4 linked regions of the Homo sapiens genome follow. The protein of the gene in region 1 interacts with the protein of each later gene in a pairwise test. Each region holds a gene or a part of one and is shown in the gene's direction. Other genes may lie near its edges.

Evidence for each region.
Region 2: the proteins of FKBP6 (region 1) and ECM1 interact in binary tests that used the Homo sapiens proteins (3 or more experiments, as listed by UniProt).
Region 3: the proteins of FKBP6 (region 1) and RAB11FIP2 interact in binary tests that used the Homo sapiens proteins (3 or more experiments, as listed by UniProt).
Region 4: the proteins of FKBP6 (region 1) and CBS interact in binary tests that used the Homo sapiens proteins (3 or more experiments, as listed by UniProt).

What each region holds. Positions count from the first base shown.
Region 1 is NC_000007.14:73,352,144-73,359,144, forward strand, and holds the end of FKBP6 (inactive peptidyl-prolyl cis-trans isomerase FKBP6), read left to right. Parts: intron 1-6,037; 3' UTR 6,038-6,482; downstream 6,483-7,001. UniProt on the Homo sapiens protein: Has an essential role in spermatogenesis. It is required to repress transposable elements and prevent their mobilization, which is essential for the germline integrity.
Region 2 is NC_000001.11:150,511,100-150,514,316, forward strand, and holds the end of ECM1 (extracellular matrix protein 1 isoform 1 precursor), read left to right. Parts: coding exon 1-99; intron 100-357; coding exon 358-732; intron 733-1,252; coding exon 1,253-1,473; intron 1,474-1,625; coding exon 1,626-1,713; intron 1,714-2,137; coding exon 2,138-2,368; 3' UTR 2,369-2,690; downstream 2,691-3,217. UniProt on the Homo sapiens protein: Involved in endochondral bone formation as negative regulator of bone mineralization. Stimulates the proliferation of endothelial cells and promotes angiogenesis. Inhibits MMP9 proteolytic activity.
Region 3 is NC_000010.11:118,008,909-118,015,944, reverse strand, and holds part of RAB11FIP2 (rab11 family-interacting protein 2), read left to right. Parts: intron 1-834; coding exon 835-880; intron 881-6,719; coding exon 6,720-6,947; 3' UTR 6,948-7,036. UniProt on the Homo sapiens protein: A Rab11 effector binding preferentially phosphatidylinositol 3,4,5-trisphosphate (PtdInsP3) and phosphatidic acid (PA) and acting in the regulation of the transport of vesicles from the endosomal recycling compartment (ERC) to the plasma membrane.
Region 4 is NC_000021.9:43,058,808-43,065,843, reverse strand, and holds part of CBS (cystathionine beta-synthase), read left to right. Parts: intron 1-148; coding exon 149-228; intron 229-322; coding exon 323-457; intron 458-571; coding exon 572-641; intron 642-1,852; coding exon 1,853-1,944; intron 1,945-2,765; coding exon 2,766-2,891; intron 2,892-3,448; coding exon 3,449-3,533; intron 3,534-5,297; coding exon 5,298-5,403; intron 5,404-6,540; coding exon 6,541-6,618; intron 6,619-6,875; coding exon 6,876-7,010; intron 7,011-7,036. UniProt on the Homo sapiens protein: Hydro-lyase catalyzing the first step of the transsulfuration pathway, where the hydroxyl group of L-serine is displaced by L-homocysteine in a beta-replacement reaction to form L-cystathionine, the precursor of L-cysteine.

The sequences.
Region 1 (7,001 bases):
TTGTAAGATGGGGTCTCATTATATTTCCTAGGCTGATCTCGATCTCCTGGCCTCAAGCGATCCTCCTGCCTCGGCCTCCCAGAGTGCTGGGATTATAGGCATGAGCCACCGCGCCCAGCCATGGAGCAGTCACATCTTTAAGATCACTGTGGAGTTGTTTATGCTTCATGAAGACCGTCAGATATCGGCTTAGTCTGTTTTTAATTTCTTGCGTTCATTAGGTGCATAAGCCCTGCCTCCAAGCATACATAATCCCAAACACCAACCTGGATAATTAAGTGTACAGGTAGTGAGTGAAAGAAGTGAGCCTAAGCAATAAGGAATTGACATCAAGCCAGTGCCTTGTACCTTCTAGGGAGAGCATGAGTCCCCGCCAGCTTTGCTGGCTGACCCCCATTCTGCAGGTGCTGATCCTGTTCTCAAGACCTTTGGTTGTAGCTGTTATTGACTGTCATACTTTTGATGCTCCCCTACGCTCCCAAGCAGCCACCGACCCAGGGTGAAGCTGAGATGAACTGGGGTGAGCCTCAGAGGTTCAAGAATCCAGAGAAGGGTTTTCAAATCTAATAGATAAGTGAAGAGCTATGAGCAAAAGTTCTCTCTAGCTCAGAGGTCACTCAGACATTCACAAGGTGAGAAGGATGTGGTCTGCCGTCACTGTGAGGGCACCCACAGCAGTCATTGTCAGCATCAGTCCAAACAGAAAAGGCAGCAAGAGGCAGACAGAGGGGCATCTCCAGGATGTTTGGCATCCTGAGGTCATACAGCTTCATTTTTTTGGTGAGCTGAATATCATGGCCATGAATGCGAGCAAATCTGCACTAACTTCCTTTTGCTTCTCCAAGAAATGGCCTAGAGAGGCTGCCTGCATTTCTTGGCTAGTGGCCCCTTCCTCTTCTTCAAAGACAGCGGCATGATATCTTCCAATATTTCTCCCTCTCTCCCTTTCTGTCTCTCCCTCTCTCTCACCCTCTCTGTGAATCTCTCATTCAGCCCCTCTCTCCCCTCTGCTTCTGTCATTTTGTCTCCTCCTTTTTCTGACCCTCCTGCCTCCCTTTTACGAGGATCTGATTACATTGGGCTGACCAAGATAATCGCCCAGCTCAAGATCCTTCATTTAACCACAGAATCCCTTCTGCCATGTATGGTAATGTATTCGTGGGTTCCGGGAATTGGAACAAGGATATCTTGGGGGGCATTTTCCCATCTCTCATACTCTGTTACAGATCAGCATCTGTGAGGGACTACACATCTTGCCAATGCAGAGATAACTCAGCACTCTGCATCCTCAGCATTCTCGGCTTAATCCTTTCCGTCCCAGATGAGATCATCCTGACAGCCGTCTTTCAGAACATTTCCTTTCTCGTGCTCCCTTCTGGTGGCTGGGGCCTGATGGACACAGCTCACCTCATCTTTCTGCTGTTTGTTTACTGCACTTGAGGGTTGCTGTACTGTTTACATTGTTAACAAATGCTAGGTTTGCTACAACCCCACATCAAGCAAGTCCGTTGGTGCCATTTTTCCAACAGCATGTGCTGAATTTATTTCTCTGATTTACATTTTGGTAATTATCACAGTATTTCTTTTTTTCTTCTTTTTTTTTTTTTTGAGGCAAAGTCTCGCTCTATTGCCCAGCCTGGAGCACAGTGGCACGACCTCAGCTCACTGCAACCTCTGCTTCCCAGGTTCAAGCAATTCTTCTGCCTCAGCCTCCCCAGTAGCTGGGATTACAGGCGTGCGCCACCACGCCCGGCTTATTTTTGTTATTTTTAGTAGAGACGAGGTTTTACCATGTAGGCCAGGCTGGTCTCAGACTCCTGGCCTAAAGTGATCCTCCTGCCTTGGCCTCCCTAAACCTTGTTTTTAAACAAGCGTGGCAGTTTGGATGGCACTTTGACCCTTCTTTGACCATGTATCACAGCACAGTGGCAGCTGGTGGTGGTGAGCTGCAGTTGTTGGAGGAAGTGCAGCAGAGCCATGCTGTGAGGCCTGGCCCACCCCCAAAACCGGGAGGTACCTGCAGGCGCTCTCATTCCATGTCAGCCTGGAAAGGGTGGGCTCCAGACCACTCAGCTCCATGCGCATTCTCATGGGACTAGGTGGCCAGTTGTGACAGTGGGGAAGTAATCGCACTCCCTGCAGAGGGACGTGGCCAAGGGAGGAGCAGAGAGCTGGGCTGGTGGAGCACGAGGGTGGCTGCAGGAAGTGCAGCAGTCAGCATGGAGTGGCCGCCAGAGAGCCAGGGCCACAGGTTGGGTGGGGAGAAGCAGGTCAGGGAGTCCCTGCAATGAGGGTTGGCTCTGAGAAGCCGCCTGGCAGGAGTGGAAGGGGCAGGTGGAGGACCCAGCAGGCCGGAGGACTGCCGCCTTGCGGGCTGGCCAGAGTGTCACAGCAGAGTCCCAAGGGGTGAGGACTCCTCAAAAAATTTTCCCCCTCAGTTGATATTTTTGGAGATATCCAGATTAGGTTCTTAAGATTGGCTGAGTAATGCATTTTGGGAAGGGGAACCAGTTGAATGGTTTCAGGAAGGTCTTTCATTCTCCACGTTTACTATGTACAGCCTTGGTTCATCTGCTGGGATTTTGAAGAGGCAGCCATAACTTTGATCAGTGTTTTTGAAGGGCTGAGTGACCCATGCAGGGTTCCAGGGTCTTCTCACCAGATGATGTTCATGGCTGAGTTTACTCTAGTTCCCCGTTGCAGGGTACAGGGAAGTGCTTGAGGCTGGGGCTGCGAGGCAGGGCTGGCACACGACACCCACCGCCACCGTGGGAACGGCACCTGCTGAGCCTTGATCCTCAGCTCTTTGTCCTCCGATTTCCGACAGAAACATCCTGGGCTCTACAGCCTCCAGCCCGTGGCTCCGCGATTACATCACTCCTCTGTCTTCTCTGTTACATTTCACACCCTTCTTTGATTACTGCTTATTATGTTGTGCGATTATGGTGGACACCACTGGCATTGCTGCTTGGGTTTCTAGTTCACAGTCCCTGTGCCTTTTCCGAGGCCTGGGGCCCACCCGCCGTGGAAGCAGCCTGGTTCGTAGGAATGGATTCAGCTGGAGTCGGCTGTGGACCTTTGTCTGTGTTCGCTGCCTCAGCCTGACTGCCATTGTCTTTGTCGATCTCCGGACTTATTTCTCCTTGAGCCACGGATACAGCTTTTTTCTGACTTTGCACCTCTGTGCGATACATGTATTGGGTTTTCAAAATGAAATGTGAGCTGAGCTTTCCTATGTTGGCGCATTCTCGTTTATGCTAAAGTGTTACTTTTTATTGGCTCCGATTTGAAAATTCAACTACCTGAACCTCGTGGGATCCCTTCGTCTGTAGGGAGCTTGAAGTTGATCTCCCCCCATCTGCATTCATGCCTGGAGAATATTGATTTTAGGGCTTATTCCTAAAGTCATTTCATGGGACACACCCTAGATCAAAACTTTCTTTTTTCACTTGATTATTATTAAACTTGTCATTATGGACATTTTCAAACGTCTCCAAAGGTAAAAAAAAAAAAATGATAACATGATCACTACCCATGTATCATTACCCAGGCTTGACAGTGAACATCTTTCTGCTGTTCCTGTACCCACTCTCCAATTTTTTGGTAGTACTTAATTTTGAATTATAAAAATGCCACATGCCAGCCGGGTGCGATGGCTCACACCTGTAATCCCAGTACTTTGGGAGGCCGAAGCAGGCAGATCACGAGGTCAGGAGATCGAGACCATCCTGGCTAACACAGTGAAACTCCGTCTCTACTAAAAATACAAAAAATTAGCTGAGTGTGGTAGCGGGCGCCTGTGGTCCCAGCTTCTCGGGAGGCTGAGGCAAGGAAGTGGCTTGAACCCGGGAGGCGGAGCTTGCAGACAGCAGAGATCGTGCCACTGCACTCCAGCCTGGGCGACAGAGCAAGACTCTGTCTCAAAAAAAAAAAAAAAAAAAAAAAAAAAGTGAGTGTATATGTAACTTGTCCACAAAAAGAATTATACATTTTGTACTAGAATATATTTTTATTGCATTTTGAGTGTTTTCTAAGTTAACACAAAGAGAACTACGTCGTTTTTAAGAAGTGGCTGGATAGCATTCCATCCTGTCAGGATATGGAAATGGTTTTCACAGTGATTAGTAGGCAGGTAGGTAGGTAGAGATTAGATAGACACACAGAAACATGGTCATGGAGCTATCCTCACGCCTGACTTTCCTGTGACAGTCAAAGTCCTATCACTGGTTGTGATGGGTGTGTCTTTGCCTGAACTAGGTCATGCTAAACTGACCTCTCCAGTGGCTGTACCAGTTTGTTCTTGGTAGTGTCTGAGAGATTCCATTCCGTCGCTTTGCCATCATTTGGATTGCTAGACTTTTTAATATTTGCCAGGTTGGTGTATCTCAAATAGGATCTCATTACTAGCATTAGCAGTTCCCTGACCAGGTCTCTGTTCACATGTTTCCAGACTGAGGTGGCCTTTCTGTAAATTGCCTAATTGTTTCTCTATAACCAAACACCTTTCTGATGTTTTTAAGTTATTTTTGATAACTCTGTCATTAATTCTGTGAGTTCTATCAGCAGTTTCACTGCATGCATCAGGTATGTGATACCATATGCCGGTAATGGTCATTTTGTCTTCTCCTCTTGTATCTTTTTTGTTTCCCCTCACAAGACAGAGTTTCACTCTTGTCACCCAGGCTGGAGTACAGTGGCGTGATCTCGGCTCACTGCAACCTCTGCCTCCTGGGTTCAAGCGATTCTCCTGCCTCAGCCTCCCGAGTAGCTGGGATTACAGGTGCCTGCCACCACGCCCAGCTAATTTTTGTATTTTTAGTAGAAACGAGGTTTCACCATGTTGGCCAGGCTGATTTTGAACTCCTGACCTCAGGTGATCCCCCCCAGCTTGGCCTCCCAAAGTGCTGGGATTACAGGCATGAGCCACTGTGCCTGGCCCTCCTCTCATGTCTTATTCAGAGCCTGATGGTGCGGTGCATGCTTCTAGAACAGTAGCGATGGGTGTGCCTCATGACCGTAATGGAGCTGCTGCTCGCTCCACCGTTAAACACCATGCTGACTTTGGCTGAGCTGTATTTTTTTCTTATCATGTTATGGAAATGTTTGTTTGTTTTTGTTTGGTTTGGTTTTTTTTTTTTTTTTTTTTTTTGAGACGGAGTCTCACTCTGTCACTCAGGCGATCTTGGCTCACTGCAACCTCTGCCTCCCGGGTATAAGCAATTCTCCTTGCCTTAGTCTCCCAAGTAGCTGGGATTACAGGCACCAGCCACCACGCCTGGCTAATTTTTGTATTTTTAGTAGAGATGGGGTTTAATCATGTTGGCTAGGCTGGTCTCGAACTACTGATGTCAAGTGATCCGCCCGCCTCAGCCTCCCAAACTGCTTTGATTACAGGTGTGAGCCAATGCGCCTGGCACCACCTCAGTCTTTACTTACTTCTGTCCCGTTGCCTGTGGTTCTGGAAGTCTGACTGGAAAGGGGTCTGTTCCTGACACCCCACCTCCTCTTCCCTCTCTCAGGTGCTGGCTCCTTTGGTTGTATTGGGGTAGGGAGGAAAGAGAAGGGAAAGGGTAGCTCACGCCTGTAATCCCAGCACTTTGAGAGGCCGAGGCAGGCAGATCACTTGAGGTCAGGAATTCGAGACCAGCCTGGCCAACATGACGAAATCCTGTCTCTACTAAAAATGCAAAAAAAAGTATCCAGGCGTGGTGGTGCGTGCCTGTAATCCCAGCTACTCAGGAGGCTGAAGCAGGAGAATCACTTGAACCCGGGAGGCAGAGGTTGCAGTGAGCAGAGCCTGTGCTACTGCACTCCAGCTGGGTGACAGAGTAAGGCTCTGTCTCAAAAAAAAAAAAAAAAGTTTCCCAGAGCCCATCTAGTAGGGCCACACGGTGATGGCATCTGTCTCTTGGCTCCTGTGTGGTCACCGGCCATGCCCTTCCCTGACCTCAGCTGCTAGCCCTCAGCACATGTGACTGTGACGTCGTGTGGCAGCTGCTGAGTCCTGAGATGTTTTTAATGGCTGTTTGATTCCCAGGTTCTTCACCTACCAACGAGGGGAGAGAGCTGTGGTTCTCCATCATTGGGGGAGTGGAAGGGAGCTCCCAGCGCAGCCGTGGCAGCCACCTTCCAGGAGCAGGGGCTGGAATGTCCTGTGGCCGCATCTCTCATGGACGCGGCTGAAACGTGTTTTCACAGGTGCTGTTTTCTGTTTTCCGTGTTCGTAACAGAAGGGAGGGGAAAGCGCAGCTACTGACAAGTAGAACACTGCTACTTTTTTTAAGGCAGTTTCTTGTTTTTTTAGACGGAATTAGTCCTTGGCTTCCCTCCCAGTCCCAGCCCTGCTTCCGGCTGCGAATGTCCCTGAGTCAACACCAATAGAGATTGCTTTGTGTATTTTGTAGGGTTCTCTGTTTTGAAGACAGAATTATGTTACAAATGTTTTTGTTGTAAATAAATAAAACACTTCCTTGTCCTTGCAAGATCCAGTATAAGTGAATTGCGTGGACTCAGCTAAGCTTCCAGAGTCCCCAGGTGGGCAGGGGGAGGCCATTTGCCAGTGGGGCTGGGGCTCAAGCTCTGGAGCCAGCGGTTCTGATTCACCTGATAACGAAACGCTGCACACCAGGCTTGGGGTTCCCTAAGCCCGCTCCCAGTGTGGGGAGCTGATGCCAGCAGCTTAATGGAAAGTTGAAGCTACTTCACCCTCCCATACCCCGACACCCCGGGATCCTTGTCCCACACAGCCCTGAGGCCACCTCACCCTCCTGCGCCCCGACACCCCGGGCTCCCTGCCCCACACGACCCTGAGGCCACCTCACCCTCCTGTACCCCGACACCCCGGGCCCCCTGCCCCACACAGCCCTGAGACCACCTCACCCTCCTGCACCCCGACACCCCGGGCTCCCTGCCCCACACAGGCCTGAGGCCATCTCACCCTCCTGCACCCCAACACCCCGGGCTCCCTGCCCCACACAGGCCTGATGCCACCTCACCCTCCT
Region 2 (3,217 bases), on another chromosome or scaffold:
ACTCGCCAGGGTGAGACCCTCAATTTCCTGGAGATTGGATATTCCCGCTGCTGCCACTGCCGCAGCCACACAAACCGCCTAGAGTGTGCCAAACTTGTGGTAAGGTTGGGTTCTTGATGCCGGGGGGTGTCCTTTAACCCCAGACAGTATGTGTGTTTTAAGGGTTAGAGCACTAGGCCTGGGTCTGGAGGAACCTCAGGTCCCGTTCACTGGCCCTACCCTGGGCCTCCCCAATGTGCCAGGGGAGCAGAGGACAACCACTGTCTCTTCTTTATCTGCCTGCCCAGTGTCCTTTCCTGGAGCCTGGGAGGAAGGCAGGAATGTGGAAAGTGGGCTGATCCTCCCCTCTTGCTCTAGTGGGAGGAAGCAATGAGCCGATTCTGTGAGGCCGAGTTCTCGGTCAAGACCCGACCCCACTGGTGCTGCACGCGGCAGGGGGAGGCTCGGTTCTCCTGCTTCCAGGAGGAAGCTCCCCAGCCACACTACCAGCTCCGGGCCTGCCCCAGCCATCAGCCTGATATTTCCTCGGGTCTTGAGCTGCCTTTCCCTCCTGGGGTGCCCACATTGGACAATATCAAGAACATCTGCCACCTGAGGCGCTTCCGCTCTGTGCCACGCAACCTGCCAGCTACTGACCCCCTACAAAGGGAGCTGCTGGCACTGATCCAGCTGGAGAGGGAGTTCCAGCGCTGCTGCCGCCAGGGGAACAATCACACCTGTACATGGAAGGCCGTAAGTGGGCGTCCCAGCCTCCCTGAGAGCCTGTTTGCCTGCCTGCCCATCTTCGACCTCTGATCCTGCCAGTCCATCCATCCATGTACCCCCCCTGCTGTGAGTGCGTCCACCCGTTCATCTGCTTGTGGCTGTCCGTCCATCCATTGTGTTTGTCACCTGAGTTTGTTCATCTTGAGCTTCGTACTACACTTCTGGCCTCCTCCACTCATGATCCACACACGCATCTGTCTACCATCCATCCATCCGTCCAGCTCTGGCCTCACCTGACCTTCTCCATCCACTGTTCCAGCTCATCTCCCGGCACCAGCTTGGAACCTCATCCAGGCTTCCACCCGTCCACCTTCCCAAGCCCACACATCAACAGTTGCCTCCTAACCCTCTACTTTTTTGCCATTCCCTTTGGGCCTCTCGGGCTGGGAGCCCCTCATCTAGTTGCCAGGGACGATAAGGGAAGTCGATGGTCAGGAGAGAAGGGGCCAAGTGTCCAGCTTCTGACTTCCCTCTCTCTGGTCCACAGTGGGAGGATACCCTTGACAAATACTGTGACCGGGAGTATGCTGTGAAGACCCACCACCACTTGTGTTGCCGCCACCCTCCCAGCCCTACTCGGGATGAGTGCTTTGCCCGTCGGGCTCCTTACCCCAACTATGACCGGGACATCTTGACCATTGACATCGGTCGAGTCACCCCCAACCTCATGGGCCACCTCTGTGGAAACCAAAGAGTTCTCACCAAGCAGTAAGTTGCCTAGTCCTTCCCCACTCTCTTCCTTTCCCGAAAACTTCCTTTTGGGACACCTTTGGGAAAAGCAAAATCATGATATCCCAACCCCATCTGATGCCAGAAGATGCCCAAAGACCCTAACCCCTGCCCCTTTCACACCAACATAGTAAACATATTCCTGGGCTGATCCACAACATGACTGCCCGCTGCTGTGACCTGCCATTTCCAGAACAGGCCTGCTGTGCAGAGGAGGAGGTGAGTGTGTGGAGTCTAGTCTCCAGAGGAATGCAGGGGAGGGGAGGGAAAGAGCTAGAACTGCAGGCCACCCCTTCTCTTTAGTACCTCAAACCAGCCTTTGGTTATAATGACTAGTGGGGGAGGTGTTTTTTTCTTGGTTCCAGAAAAGTCTTCACTCTGACCTGGCCTGCTCCCCATCTCTAAGTTCCTATTATGCCTTCTCCGGGCCACAAGCTTCTGGCATTTCCAGATGTACACATTTGTCAGTCACAAGGAATCCAGCTGTGCAAGGCAGTCTTGTACTCTCTCTGGGCCCCAGGAGGGGAACGAGGGAGAGAGCAGTAGAAGCTGATGAAAGGGGGACTTTGGCACCCAAGTATCTACATCTGTCCTTGGACCACCTCCCCACCCCATCATCTGTTTTACTTTTCTCATTCATCAGAAATTAACCTTCATCAATGATCTGTGTGGTCCCCGACGTAACATCTGGCGAGACCCTGCCCTCTGCTGTTACCTGAGTCCTGGGGATGAACAGGTCAACTGCTTCAACATCAATTATCTGAGGAACGTGGCTCTAGTGTCTGGAGACACTGAGAACGCCAAGGGCCAGGGGGAGCAGGGCTCAACTGGAGGAACAAATATCAGCTCCACCTCTGAGCCCAAGGAAGAATGAGTCACCCCAGAGCCCTAGAGGGTCAGATGGGGGGAACCCCACCCTGCCCCACCCATCTGAACACTCATTACACTAAACACCTCTTGGATTTGGTGTCCTCATTGTCTATCTAATGTCTCACCCGCAGTGTTTTAAGTGGATCTTGGTGCCCTGGCCCAGGAGGGCACTGGCGTTTTCAGACACACCACAGACAAACACACCCTCCTAAGCCTGCTTGTATTTCCTTCAGTGCCTGGCCCCTGAGGCCCACGGCCCTGCCCCCTTCACTGAGCAGATGTTCACAGGCTGTGGGATGCGACCATAACTAAACAGCTTGACGTCACTTTGCCATCTTGAATTTATTCACATATTTTGAAAGGAGTGCCACCTTGTTAGCTAGCTATCAGGACTCAAAGAAGATATGGTTCTTGGCCTTGGTGAGCCCCCAAAATGCCACAGCCCAGCCTAACATTTTTAAAGCTTCACTTTTGATCCTTAGAATTCATGCCTTCATTCATTCAATATCCTTTTTTTTTTTTTCTTGAGACACAGTCTCGCTCTATCGCCCAGGCTGAAGTGCAGTGGCACGATCTTGGCTCACTGCAACTTGCAACCCTCCTGGGTTCAAGCGATTCTCCTGCCTCAGCCTCCCGAGTAGCTGGGATTACAGGCGTGCACCAGCACACCCAGCTAATTTTTGTATTTTTAGTAGAGACGGGTTTTCACCATGTTGGCCAGGCTCCCAAAGTGCTGGGATTACAGGCGTGAGCCACTGTGCCTGGCCAATATCCATTTATTGAACCCCTATCTATGCACACTCTGCTAGACTTGGGGATACACATCCAGAACACACACAGCCCCTGCCCTGAG
Region 3 (7,036 bases), on another chromosome or scaffold:
AGTTGTTGTTTTGTGCATGGAATAAAAAGGTTCTTAGGACACTAATGCTTTGTGAAGGTTTTAAAGGCTAATACCTTTAAGTGCTGGGTAAAAATTAAACTTGAATAGCACCGATGAAATATTTACTCATCAGATGGCTTTGAAGTTTAGCGTCTTTTGGTTGCAGTCCCATCTAATGGACATGTTTCAAAGAAGAAAATAGTTATAGCATTCAGCTGTGATGTTTTCTTCTCTGCATGGGAGAAATCTGTGTTGTTTTGATTCGTTTCAGTATTTAAATTTTCAAGACTAGCTACTTAGAAATCACATTAACGAGAGAAATGTTTCCCACAATTCTGAATTTATTCTTATTGATAGGGTAATGTTTGAAAGCTGAGTTTTCTAACACTTATGGCATTTTTAAACAGATTGCTTTAACTCTTTTATTCTATAATCTTTCCAACCTAAATTTACTTAATTCTCCCTAGTTTTATATCAGAGGGCCTAAGGTGAGTGACTGTGTGTAAATATAATGGGAAATCTCTCACACAAATTAGTTTTGCAAAATATCTTGCTGGATAAAAGTGCTATGTTTAAAGTTGTTTAGAAACTTCCTATTTCATTCTTCAGTTCTGATAACTAAAAAGTTTTCCTTCAAAGTTTGAAATTGTAATGATGCTTTAAGAATGTTGGGGAAATACTGGATTTTTTTCTACTTCTTGGATTAAATTTCACTCCTCTGAATAATGTAGGGCTTTAGAAATTTGTATTACAATGTTGGTTAAAATTTTTCTATTTTTATGTTTCCTCCCACATGAGTTATGACACTTTTAACATTTGTTTGTGTTTTATTAGTTTTCATATGAGTCCAACAAGCAATGAAGACCTCAGGAAAATCCCGGTAAGTTGCTGAAGGGGTTAGAGGGTTGTCAAAGAGTAAGCTGGTCTTTTTCTCTGGCACACATTTCTAAAAATGCCTTTGTCTTCTTGCCTTCTGCCTCACTTACCTAAGAATTGTAGCTTAGCGTAGTAATTTTAGGAGAAAGAAAGAAAGTAAAATACAATCTTTGCCTTTAATATACAATAGGGTGTGACTCGTATGATCTATGAAAGTTCAAGCAAAATTGGTTATAATTGAAGCCAATTTAGAATATACATATTTTGTTTACAGACTTTTGAAATTAATATGCAAGCTGTATGTCAGGGTCAAATTTGTGGTTATGAAATAAGAGCACGTAGAAAAGACTATTTTTTGTTGTTGTTGGGACAAGGATTGAAGAAAGAATAAAGCTGCTTGTTAACATTCAACAATAGAAAAGCATCCTGGCAGGAGAGCCAGATAACCAGGAAAGTATTTGAAAGAACAAATACTTTAGGACACTTATCTTTCTCGTCAGAACAAAACCAAATATGTTAACAGGATTGGTAGCGACCACCTAAATCAACTCACGTATTTTGCAAGGATTATTCAGATAATCTGAACTTTATTGTAGTATTTGAAGTCCAGTATTTAATCTCTGTTCAGAGTTCCATTGCATCTGCAATCAATTCTAACTATATTAAACGTAGAGAATAAATTACTTTGCCAAAATATGGGCAAACGTTCTTGGTAGAAAACTAAATTCTCACTGAATAACAGAAATAGAGGCTTTATTCCAAGACACTGGTGGTTGCTGTTTCAACCATCTGTCCTTGATGTGTGCGATCCAGATGTATAGTAAGAATTTTTTTAGGCAATCCCATATCACATATCACTATTTTTTAGGATGTGACATGGCTAGAAGAAGCTAAGGTGGGTTTAGGGTTTATTTTCTAAACCATTCTAAATGCAGTTGTTTATCTTTAAAATTGTGGAAACTGTTACAGAAGCACAGGACTTTGTACTGTGTTTTTGCTGTTTTATTTAAACGATTCGTAAGTTTTGATGTTTTATAAATTCTCAAGTCTTTATAATATGGCAGTCTGGCGAGAAATGTGAGAAAATATGAAGTCAGCCTTTGATCAGATAGTAAAATGAATTCTATCAGGCGGTTACTTAATCTCAAACAAAATGCAACATCAAAAAAATCGATTTAATGTGTAGCTATTGTTTATTAAGTAACCTTAATTACAATTTCGATTGCTTGTAAATGTACTTTTCCAAATCTTGTAATTTATTGCTGTAGAAGCATCCTTAGAATTCTTTAAAGAAATAAAATGTGAAAATTGTTTTAGTTAAAGGATTTAAAGGTGATAAAAGAATCCTTGATGTGTGATTATTTTTCTCTGGAATACTAACTATTCTAAATGACAGTTAAAGGATTACTAGGTGTTGTTAATTTACTGCAAGATACAATTAAGAGGAGGAAGCGCATCTTCGTACTGATCATGATTGAAGAAAAGCATTCGAACAATTTTTATGTTGAAGATTATAAGATGTTTGAAGTAATTTACATTAAGTTCTCCAATAATAGCCATCCACCAAGTTATTTTTTCTCCCTCTGGACATAGTATTTTGTAATTAAGTTTGTATGTCTTATATGCTAGTGCCAACACCTGTCTGTGAAAGCACAGTGTTTAAACAGGAGCAGTAGCCAGTTGAAAGGGCAGTGTGAGCTCTTTAAGGCCTAATTAAGAACTGAAAGGGAGATGAAGGGAGTAGGACAAAAGATGTGAAAGTAGCTGAGATGATATTCCCAGAGCAAAGTTCCTCATTAGAACAATAATGAGATGATCAGAGAATGCCAAGCCTTCATTTTTTTTTCTCTCTCTCCTCTAGTTGCCTTGGATGTCAGTTAGTACCCCACCAATATTTGGTTACCAGGACAACCTTTCTTTAAATCTTCAGTTATTTTGAGTCTTGATAATTTGCTTTTGTTTAAATTTAAATATTGTAAAAAATGTACATTTCCTAGTTTAAAAGGCTAGACTGTGTAAAGCAAAAATAGATCACTAGCAGTTCTCAAAATCTTATGCAAAACTGTATTATTTAAAATTCTGGGTTAGAAAACTTCATGTAGTAATTCTAATATTTTCTTACCAGTCCACATCTTCTATGTCTGCATATGGACATTTTTAACAGAGGTGGAGTAGAAATGAGAAAAGGTTGGTTGTAAAAGGGGAAGAGAGAAGAAAAATTTACATTAAATTTCAAAATAAGAAAACATCTTAAAAACATAAGTGCTGTCTGTATGGAGTACTGTAAGAAAAAATATTGAGCACTTTGGAGTAACCATTGTAAGTTGCATTTGGTCTTTGCCAGTTTAGAGAGTTATGAATTTTGCAAGTTTTTGCAAGAATAATCTTTCGAAAAAATAATTTTTATATTTACCTGAGAGTTTTCCTCTCTAAAAAAATAATTTTTGTAATGAGCATATGTTTTAATTTTCTATTGTTTATATTACTTAATCATTATTTTATTTGGAGTTATATCAACAAACAGAAATATATATATATATGTGGAGTATATCAGTCAATTTAAGAATCTCATGCCTAAAATTAGAAGGTTTACATTGTTTTCAAATATCAGATAAAATCTGGAACTCAGCATGAAACTGTTTTTAATTATTTTATATTCTTTTCCAGAATATAATTCATAGTACATATGTTTCTAAGATGTTTTCCTGCCTAGAAACTTGATGCTAAAATTTGAGGTGAAATTTTCACATAAAAGGACAAACGGAAAATTTATTGAAAAGGCCAGAAATGTATTTCCAGGAAATCTGTCTACACATTAGTGTTAGATTGTTGTAAGGAAAAAAAAAATAATCCAAATAACATATCTGTGTATTCTAGAGTATGGCTATAAAGTATGACCAGTAGTCTGAAATAATAATTGATTATTTTGAAAGATTAAACTATTAATTTATATCATGGCTTTAATTTATATCAAAACACAAATTTTTGAAACGTTTTTCATCTTCAGTGTCTTTAGAGAAATGTTACAAAAAATTTTTAACTACATTAACTGGTAATAGTGTTAAATATAACAGTGCACTTTTATTTTAACTATTTCATAGCTTAATTAGTTTGGAGAAATCAGTTTATATATGTGTAATTTTATTAAGATTAGAGAGACTTGAATAGATGCTTTTATTATGTTAAATAAAGAAAAAGCATAAAGCAGTCAACTAATCAGTAATGAATCCCATTTAGCTTCCTTTCATTAATCCCTGCAATTCTCACAAGAACATGAATTTCTCAGTAAATGTTTTATTAGAAAAGTGAAATCACATTAGTTAGAGTTTATTAGTTTTTAAAGTGGGGTTTAGAAAAATCACTTGGTATACCAGACAATTTTAGAGTTGAAAGGGACCATGGAGAACATCTCATCTATCAGATAAGGAAAGTGAGACCCAAGTTGCTTTCTCTCTCAAATTTATGCAGAATTACTCGAGTTGAAGTAAGACACTTTAGCTTATTTTTAAGAAATTTCAAAAGTATACCGAACTCTACACTATGTCTTCTCTTTACTGTAGAAAACGGCTTAACATAATCTTTTATAAGAATGTAATTAATACTTATGTATCTCCAAACTATATATTATGACCAATTAAACTAGTAACTACGTGCATGAGAGTGTGTGTGTGTGTGTGCGCATGTGTGTAGACTTATAAAAGATTAATTGATCTGAGAGAGGAGGGAGAAGTAAAACAACACTTATCTCTAGAATTGTCCTTTAATGGTTTTAGAACAATATTTGAAATGTTTTTAAGGATGAAGGAAATATGACTGAAACTTACATCTGTTTCCAGTTTCTAATGCTAAAATAAACTAAGTTGTTTTAGACATATTTTATAGAATTTAAACTCACTTCCCTTTAATATCCTCTCTATTCATTCTTGCTAACTCTGGTCTTTCATATTTCAATAGCCCTATACCTAATCTTAGCCCCTCCAAATGATTCCACTGTTGCCATTTTACTTTTCCTGGAACATAGCTTTAATCATATCCTTTCTCTGTTTAGAAACCTTCAGTGGCTTCCTATTTTCCATAGCAAAAGTCTAAAAATTCTTTATACTACCATTCAGCATTCTTGGTGGTCTATTTCAAACCTTCCATTTCGGCCCCTGTCTGCTCGCTGTCCTGTACAGTATTTTCCAGCCATGCTCTACAGAGTACCTGTTATTGGATTACCTGTTGGCCACTATGCCTTGAGCCTTGTTTCCTTCTTTGAACAAGCAGAGTTCACTGCTTGAAATGCCCCATTACGCATTTCTGCCTGCAAACTCTTGAAGGCCTAGCGCAAGCTGTATCTTCTCCACAAAGCCTGAGAGATTCTATGAAATTGGAAAAGTTTTTCAGTCCTGAATGTTTTCACTTATCCTGGAGAAGTGGGTGTGCTTCAATGACCCAAGCATCAAATTGGTATCTGTACTCTAGCTTCTCTTTCTCTGGTCTGGTAAAGTCCTGGTTCCTTGGGCTGAGAGGCTGGGGAAGTGGTGAGGGCCAGTGAAAAGTTAAACTTTGGCTTTTCTCATGAACACCCCCAAATACATAGCACTATTAAAGTAGATCCTGAAAACAGGGAAGGACAGTTTAATTCTTATTGGGGGTGGGGGTCATTCTGCATTCACCAGTCCCCATTCCCCATCCTCCACTGAATAGATTAGATAGTATTCCTTAACAGCAAGAAAACCAATTTCCTCAATATTTTAGTTAAGTTTCCTTAAAGCCAAATGGAAATGTTTTAAAAGATAGTGATGAAAATTATTTTAAATTGTTGGGCTTAATGAGAGAACTATGATTTAAAAAGAATAAAAAATTGCTTAGTTGTAATTGGGCATTATGTTTTACAGAATGAAAACTCTTAATGCTATACACTATAAATAAAAGATTATGTTACAGGGCCTTGATTAAATTCCTGAGAAATATTTTTCTTTCACTTTTGATATAACATTAATATTAGAATGCTTTGTAATAACAGTGAATTAATAAGTGTCTTTTAAAAAAGATTTTTGGTTATATTTATGCTTTTGCCTAAAAAGAATTTTTGTCAATAGAATAAAGTTAAGTAAATAGATGAAATGGGAGAGAATGCAAATATACTAACCGTAGTATTAATATGGTTGAACTCTTGAGTTTCCTGATAACCAGGGTCAAAAAGGGAAAGAAGATAAATTAGATATTATTATAGGAGAAAGAAATAGACCAGTTACTCAGGGGAGGAAAAGTTCTGCCTGTTTCTAAATTAAAACAGAAGTTACTCACATGGGGCTTCCTGTAAGGATAATCTTTGATTTAATTCCGAGTGCTTCCATTTTCATAGCAAATTAGAAAAGATTTTTGCTGTAACCATCTTCACTAAGAAGCCAAACATATAACATTAAATCACAGTTCAGTGGAAGCAGTTTCATAAGGACACAAGTCCAAGTGTATAGTTTTCAGTTACTTCTTACAGTTCCTCTGAGTTAACTTTTAGAAATCTTTAGTTTTCATCTATTTTAGTTGTATTTATTATAGAATATTTCATCTCTTAATGTAATCTTACATGATATAACCAGTCTCAGATATTAGGAAATTGCCCACAATGTTAGAAAGGGTTTTAGGATTTAGAGTTATAGTCAAAACTTTGGTGCATCTGCCCTAGTTCTTGCCTCAGGACTGGCTAGCCAATTTGTGAACTGTCACATTCACTTTAAGCAAGGCTAGCGAAAAACTTCATCAGGGTTTGAAAAACAAAAAGTCGAAGTTCCAGGTAATTCTTAATGTTTGTCCCAGATGTTATATCTATGAAAGTGACAGTCTTTATCCTGTTCTAGGACAGCAACCCCTTTGATGCCACTGCAGGGTATCGTAGTCTGACCTATGAAGAGGTTCTACAGGAGCTGGTGAAACACAAAGAACTCCTTAGGAGGAAAGACACCCACATCCGGGAACTCGAGGACTACATCGACAACCTCCTTGTAAGGGTAATGGAAGAAACGCCCAGTATTCTCAGAGTGCCGTATGAACCATCCAGGAAAGCTGGCAAATTCTCTAACAGTTAATAAAGCCAATTGTATTGTATTGATAATTGGACAAAGAGAGAGAAAGAAAGAAGGAAGGAAGGAAAAACTTGTTACTGAAAGAGACTACA
Region 4 (7,036 bases), on another chromosome or scaffold:
GCCATGTTGGGCAATTTTGGAATCCCACAGAACCCTCTTCCCTGGGCCCTAAGGGAACCGGCATCGGGGTGTGCCCCTGTGTCCCAGGCAGGGGCGGGGCAGGGCTTGGGGGGTCACTGGGCCCCTCTCACCCTCTGTGTGCCCTCAGGGATCGGGCTGGCCCTGGCTGCGGCAGTGAGGGGCTATCGCTGCATCATCGTGATGCCAGAGAAGATGAGCTCCGAGAAGGTGGGTGGGCGTGGCCAGGGGCGGGGTCATAGGGCAGGGGATGAGGGTGCCTGGGCCAGGCGGAAGGTGCAGGCCACCGCTTTCCCTCCTGCAGGTGGACGTGCTGCGGGCACTGGGGGCTGAGATTGTGAGGACGCCCACCAATGCCAGGTTCGACTCCCCGGAGTCACACGTGGGGGTGGCCTGGCGGCTGAAGAACGAAATCCCCAATTCTCACATCCTAGACCAGGTGAGGCACCTGGGGCCTGGAGACAGGCATTCCCTAGGAGGGTCTCGGTCAGGGATGTGGGGGTGACTGAGGTGTCAGGGGTCAGCTCACGGGCTCTGCTCTCTTTCTATGCAGTACCGCAACGCCAGCAACCCCCTGGCTCACTACGACACCACCGCTGATGAGATCCTGCAGCAGTGTGATGGTGCGTCCCTCTGTCCATCTTGATTGCATTTATCCCTGGCTGCCTGGGAGTGTACACATCTCTTGCCCTCTCCTTGGTGAACTCCTATTCACCCTTCAGAACCCAGCTCAAATGTTCCCTCTGTGAAATGCTTTTCTAGAGCATTTCTCTAGAACAATTTCCTCCCTCCGTTGTGCCCTCTTGGCCTCCGCCTGTGGTTTACCTGTAATAGCAAACACAGGGCATGGCTGTATTTGTTTACCCAGCAATCTCTGCAGGTCTGCAGGGGCTCCTCCTGCAGATAATGCAGACAGCGAGTCTGTTCAGGGCCCAGGCTGGTGCTGGGCTCACAGCTTGGACTTCATTTGGGATCATGCCCTGACTCGGCATCAAATTCATCTGCAGAACAGAGCTGGTGACATCTGCGATGAGCTCACTCTCTGTTACAAGCATGAGGCCGGCTCCTTGGGCCCTTTTCCAGGGACTCGGTGCCAAGGCCTGTGGGGGTTGGTACTGAGGTTTTCCCAAGAGATCCCTTTAGAGATAAGTTGCCAAGAGGTTGGCGCCCTGGCTTCCTATTGGGAATCCGGTGTTGGCATGGGCTGGAGTACACCCTCAGTCCGTGCCCAGGAGCCGGGCTGTAAGGTCCAGGCATTTGGTTGTTTGGGCTTTATGTGTGAGAACTCTCTCATTTGGCAAAAACAGTCCTGTCTCAGCATGGGTGCCCAAGCTGCTCCGTCTCGCTGAGTCTTTCCCTGCTGTGACTTCTCCACCAGATGCCCGCGCTGGCGGCCAGCAGTGTGAGCGCCCAGCGAGTTTCTGCGCTGAAGCCTAAAAGACTGATTCCATTTCCTGTGTAAATTCAGTTAACTCACTCACACCACGCAAACATCCAACAGCCCACGGAGGTGGTTAATTCACAGCCTCCCTCTGCCCGCCCTCAGCGCCTGCACCCCCCGGACAGGGTCCTGTCTTTCTGCATCCAGCCAAATGGGGGTTTTAGGGGTCGAGTGTCACTGAGCAAAGACTGGGCTGGGGTGCCCCAGGCTGCCTGTTTCTGAGGCTTTCACAGACCAAGGGCAGCAACGAGGGCTGCTCCAACTGGAGAAGAAGTTTTTCTTTTGAACTTTTTGGTTACCCACCGTGGTTTGGGCTGAGTGTGTTTTCAATGATTATTACTATGAGTGATGGGCTGGCCAGGCAGGGACCCAAGAATGTTATCCGTCCACCAGGGAAGCTGGACATGCTGGTGGCTTCAGTGGGCACGGGCGGCACCATCACGGGCATTGCCAGGAAGCTGAAGGAGAAGTGTCCTGGATGCAGGGTGAGTGGTGTGGCCGGGCCGGAGAGGGGCAGTGCGGAGTGGCCCCGGCTTCTGAGCTGAAAGCTGTCATTCCTCACGGTCTGCTCAGCACGCTGTCTCCCGCGGTATTTCTGCGCTGCCTGGGAGGTGTTTGGGAAGACAAGGGTGCTTGACACATAAGGGACCAGCAGCTCGTGACCCGAAGGAGCTGGGGCTGGGTGCTCGCTCACCGGCCAGTGTCTTGGAGAACCTTCCTGCGCTGAGTGGGGGGTCGGAGTTCCAACTGGGGGCCTCTGAGGATCAGCCAGGAGCTCTAAGTCCTCTGGTCCTGAGTCTGCCCCTCAACTGGGGCTTGTGGGAGTTGGGAGAGGGTTCCTGGACTCGGGGTTAAGAGCAGGTCTGAGGACGGGTGCCTAGAAAGGTCCCGCTGATGAGACAAGGGCGTTCTCTCCCTGTTGCTTGCCCTTGAAAAAGACGTCACTGCCCAGCAATGCCCTTTGTCCCCAAAGGCTCTGCTGCTCCGCCGCAGGGTGGTCTGTCTGGACTGTCCTGGGGGCCCCGCTCCGAGAAGCACCCCGGGGAGGTCAGTTCCTCCCAGGCACCTGCCTTTACTTCTGAGCGCCCTGCACTGAACATTTAGGTCATTACCGCTTTAATACTTGGAGCCTGGGTTCTTGGGTTTCTCATCCTGCCTCTGAGGCTGGGAACAGGCCACCACCCACAGGCAGATCATTAACAGGCAGTTGTTAACGGCGGTATTGGCCACTCCCATAATAGAATATCGAGGCATGTCCAGGCGGGGCTTTTGCTGGCCTTGAGCCCTGAAGCCGCGCCCTCTGCAGATCATTGGGGTGGATCCCGAAGGGTCCATCCTCGCAGAGCCGGAGGAGCTGAACCAGACGGAGCAGACAACCTACGAGGTGGAAGGGATCGGCTACGACTTCATCCCCACGGTGCTGGACAGGACGGTAGGTCGAGTCCAGAGCCCGGCCACAGTGCCGGTGCAGCCTGTAACTCACCCTCACACTGGGGAGCCTGGCTGACCCTGGGCCCCAACCAGCTTCTCCACTGAAACAGAAGGGCAAGCCCCGCACGCATGGTGAGAAGCTGGTCTCGAAGGTCGAGACAAAGTAGACTGGGGGACGATGTCCGCACACGTGGCCTGACCTCACCAAGGGATGTAGCCCAGGTGGCACAGGCAGGGAGCAGGGAAAACGTGTGAAAATTAAGGCCCCGGAAAAGTCTGTTAAGAGCCAAAAAGCTGACTTTGGCCTGAGGGAGAGCAGAGACCGAAGGGCCGGTGTGGGTCACACGGATGCTCAGTGGGGCTGGCGGGCAGTTTTGCTGTCTGCAAAACGTGTTGGAACTGGAAAGTCTGCAGACGTGCCGATCCCAGGGGGAGAGGCTGGGGTGAGACCTCTGGGGTCCTACCGCCTAGACACGGGGTCCACCATGAGGCTGTTCACCCTCTTGGTCACGTGGGAGCGGCTCCCACGCTGACGGGCTGTGGTGGGGTCCTGCTCAGGTGGTGGACAAGTGGTTCAAGAGCAACGATGAGGAGGCGTTCACCTTTGCCCGCATGCTGATCGCGCAAGAGGGGCTGCTGTGCGGTGAGTGGGTGGCGGGCACGGGGGTATGGGGAAGGCAGAGATGGCTAGGGGGCACTGGGGATGGCTGGGGGCGCACCCTCAGTCAGCCACCGACCTGCATGTGTAAGACAGCAGTTCTGAGGAGTGTCACTGCGGCGGCCACGAGCCTCAGGTGTTGTCTGCCTGCCCAGTGTGGTCACCTGCTCAGGTGAGGGCAGGAGGCCATGGGGCGGGGCTTCGAGCTGCCTTCCAGAATGTGTTTCTAGAACAAGGCTGAAGCTCTCATGGCACTTATTGTTTCTAATCAAGTCCACCAGGGCCCCTGGGGCGGTGGCTCTGCATTGACGGGGCCCATGGCCGGGACTGGGTGCTGCGAGCACCCTGGAGCAGCTGGGGAGGGGACTGGAGCCTGAGGCTGTCCAGCTCGACCCCGCTCACCTTCCTCCTACCCCGTGCCCCTCTGCCCACCTGCTTGGGGGTGGACAGACCAGGTGGCCGCTGGCAATGCCACTGACTAGCCACACAGGCAGCAGAGGCCCTGTAGGGACCACAGTTGATCTAGACCTCTGGGGACTCGGAGAGCACACACCAGCTTCTAAAACGCAGGCAGGGACATGTGAGGTTTCTACATGTGCATTCCGTGTGTCATGTCACTTTGGGGGTGGTGACAGGGAAAGTGGAAGGAAACCAGCCCTCAGCATGGCCAAGTCCCCCGTTAGCTGAGCCCCAAACTAGAGATTGGAAGAAAGTCTTGATTGAAAAACCATTTCCCAGCCAGGCGCGTTGGCTCATGCCTATAATCCCAGCACTTTGGGAGGTCGAGGCGGGTGGATCACCTGAGGTCAGGAGTTCAAGACCAGCCTGGCCAACAGGGAGAAACCCCGTCTCTACTAAAAATACCAAAAAAAAAAAAAAAAGTAGCCGATGTAATGGTGCATGCCTGTAATCCCAGCTACTCGGGAGGCTGAGGCAAGAGAATTGCTTGAACCTGGGAGGTGGAGGTTGCAGTGAGCCGAGATCACGCCATTGCACTCCAGCCTGGGTGATAAGAGCAAAAACTCCATCTCAAAAAAAAAAAAAAGAAAAGAAAAGCATTTTCCAGATGAATCTGTCACGAAAGGTGACTTGGTGCCCATAATCGTTGGGCTCTCCCTGTCTCAGTCTCCCTGCTCCCCATGTTGGTGGAGAAACAAGCCCCTGCCTTTGGGGCTGGAAAGCAGGTCCATGGGCCCCGTTACAGAGGAGGGTGCCTCTCTTCCTGTGGGGGCTCCTACTGCAGACTTAGACCTTCCCGACTGCTGTGTGCACCCTCAAACTAAGCCCAGAGAAGACGCCTCTGACTCTGACTTCAGGGCTCCTAGGGACAGCTGGTGTCACTGTGAGCCTTGGTCTCTTGTTTATAAAGCAGAGCCCAGTGTGCAGTCAGGCAGCCTGCAGGCGTGGTGCTGGGGGCTCCGTCCTCGTAGCATCGCTGGCTCTAGGCTCAGGGCCAGGAGGTTTGCCAGGGGCCGCAGCCCCACTGCAGGCATTTCCCTGGCACCAGTGCCCACCCCAGCTCATTATGAAGCCCCGAGTGGACACAGAAACTCCATGGTGCACAAGGAAGAAGCCGATGCTCACGGAGAAGTGGGGTCCTCCCAGCCCCTCTCCCCGAGGCAACCCCTCTTGACGGATCCTTCGGAGTGTGTCTGACATGCTCCCATGCGTGCACGTGCACAATTCATGCATACGTGTGCACCCACGCACGCTCACCCTGGCGCGTCTGACTCGTGGCCCTCTCTGCAGGTGGCAGTGCTGGCAGCACGGTGGCGGTGGCCGTGAAGGCCGCGCAGGAGCTGCAGGAGGGCCAGCGCTGCGTGGTCATTCTGCCCGACTCAGTGCGGAACTACATGTAAGACACGGCTTCCCTCCCAGGTCCCTGCTCCTCTCCATCCTGCCACCCTTCCCTGGATGCCTCTCACGCCTCACCTGAGAACCGGCAGCCAGAACTGGGAGGGGAGGAGGCCAGCGGGGCCCTGTGAGCACCGCCTCCACTCTCCTGCCCACGTGCCCTCACGCTGTGGGGCTTCCCAGCCTCTTAATGCTGTGAAAATCAATGCACACTCGCAGTGACAGCCCTGACAGGAGGGGCATGAAAGACGGTGGCTCCCTCTCTGTCCCTCCTGTCCCTTCCTCTCTGGTGTCTGTCCCCCTCACTGCTCTGGGGTCCGTGAGCTCCAACGGGTAGCCCTGGCCACATGGACTGACGTCCTCTTGGGCCGGGCCCTGTGCCACCTCCTATCCACCCTGACTCCCTCTGCTGCTTCCCCCAAACTCCAGATTGGGACCGAGTGCTGCCCAGGTGGCCCCCTAGGACTTGCTGTGACTGTTTTGCCCAGAGGCCCCTCGGACAGTAACGCCACAGACCTCGCTGGTCACCGGGCAGCCAGGCTGAGACTGGCGCTGCTCTGCACCTGGTCTCCGGAGGCGGTACCAGGGCGGGTGTCTACAGACCCCCATGCCCTGTCCCCTGCACCTGCAGGGTTTCCTCCATGGCCTGCAAGCTGCAGCGGCTACACAGCTCCCGAGAGCTCAGCTGCCCTTGGAGGGCCAGGCCTGGCTGGTGGGTGCCCCCAGTTGGGTTCCCCAGTGTGGGGTGATTCACATCTGGTGCCCAGGGTCAAGATGCCCTGTGCAGGGCTCCTGCCCACCCCCGTCAGTGCAAGAACACCATCTCCCCACATACTTGGCCAGCCTGCCATGTGTACCTGTGCGTGTGAGTGTGTGAGGGGCAGAGAGCGAGCATGAGAGGACGTGTTTATCTGAGTGCCTGAGCGATGGCTGTGTGCATGCTCACACACGCTTGTTGGCCATGGGGGCGGGAAGTCCAGCCCCCAGGCTTCCCCCTGGGGCTTCCAGCCAGCACTTGGGGGTCTCTGCTGCACCAGTGAGGTCCAGGAGAGGGGCTGGGCAGGCAGTGCGTGCCACTCAGCAGGGGCGGGGGCCCGGTGGGGCCCTGCGGGGACTCGGTGACTCCCCCATCCCGCAGGACCAAGTTCCTGAGCGACAGGTGGATGCTGCAGAAGGGCTTTCTGAAGGAGGAGGACCTCACGGAGAAGAAGCCCTGGTAAGACCGCTCGGCCGGAGACCCGCTGCCTGTGCTGGCCCTGCCCAGTGTGACAGGCAGGAGAGCACTCCCCCGTGGCCTGTGCTGGCCCTGCCCAGTGTGACAGGCAGGAGAGCGGTCCCCGTGGCCTGTGCTGGCCCTGCCCAGTGTGACAGGCAGGAGAGCGGTCCCTGTGGCCTCCTGCTGAGGTGCTGCCGGCGGGGGTGCGAGAGCGTTTGTCCTTATCCTGATCCCCCCGACCTGCCCTCTTCCCTCAGGTGGTGGCACCTCCGTGTTCAGGAGCTGGGCCTGTCAGCCCCGCTGACCGTGCTCCCGACCATCACCTGTGGGCACACCATCGAGATCCTCCGGGAGAAGGGCTTCGACCAGGCGCCCGTGGTGGATGAGGCGGGGTCAGTCTCAGCCCCTGCTCAGAGCT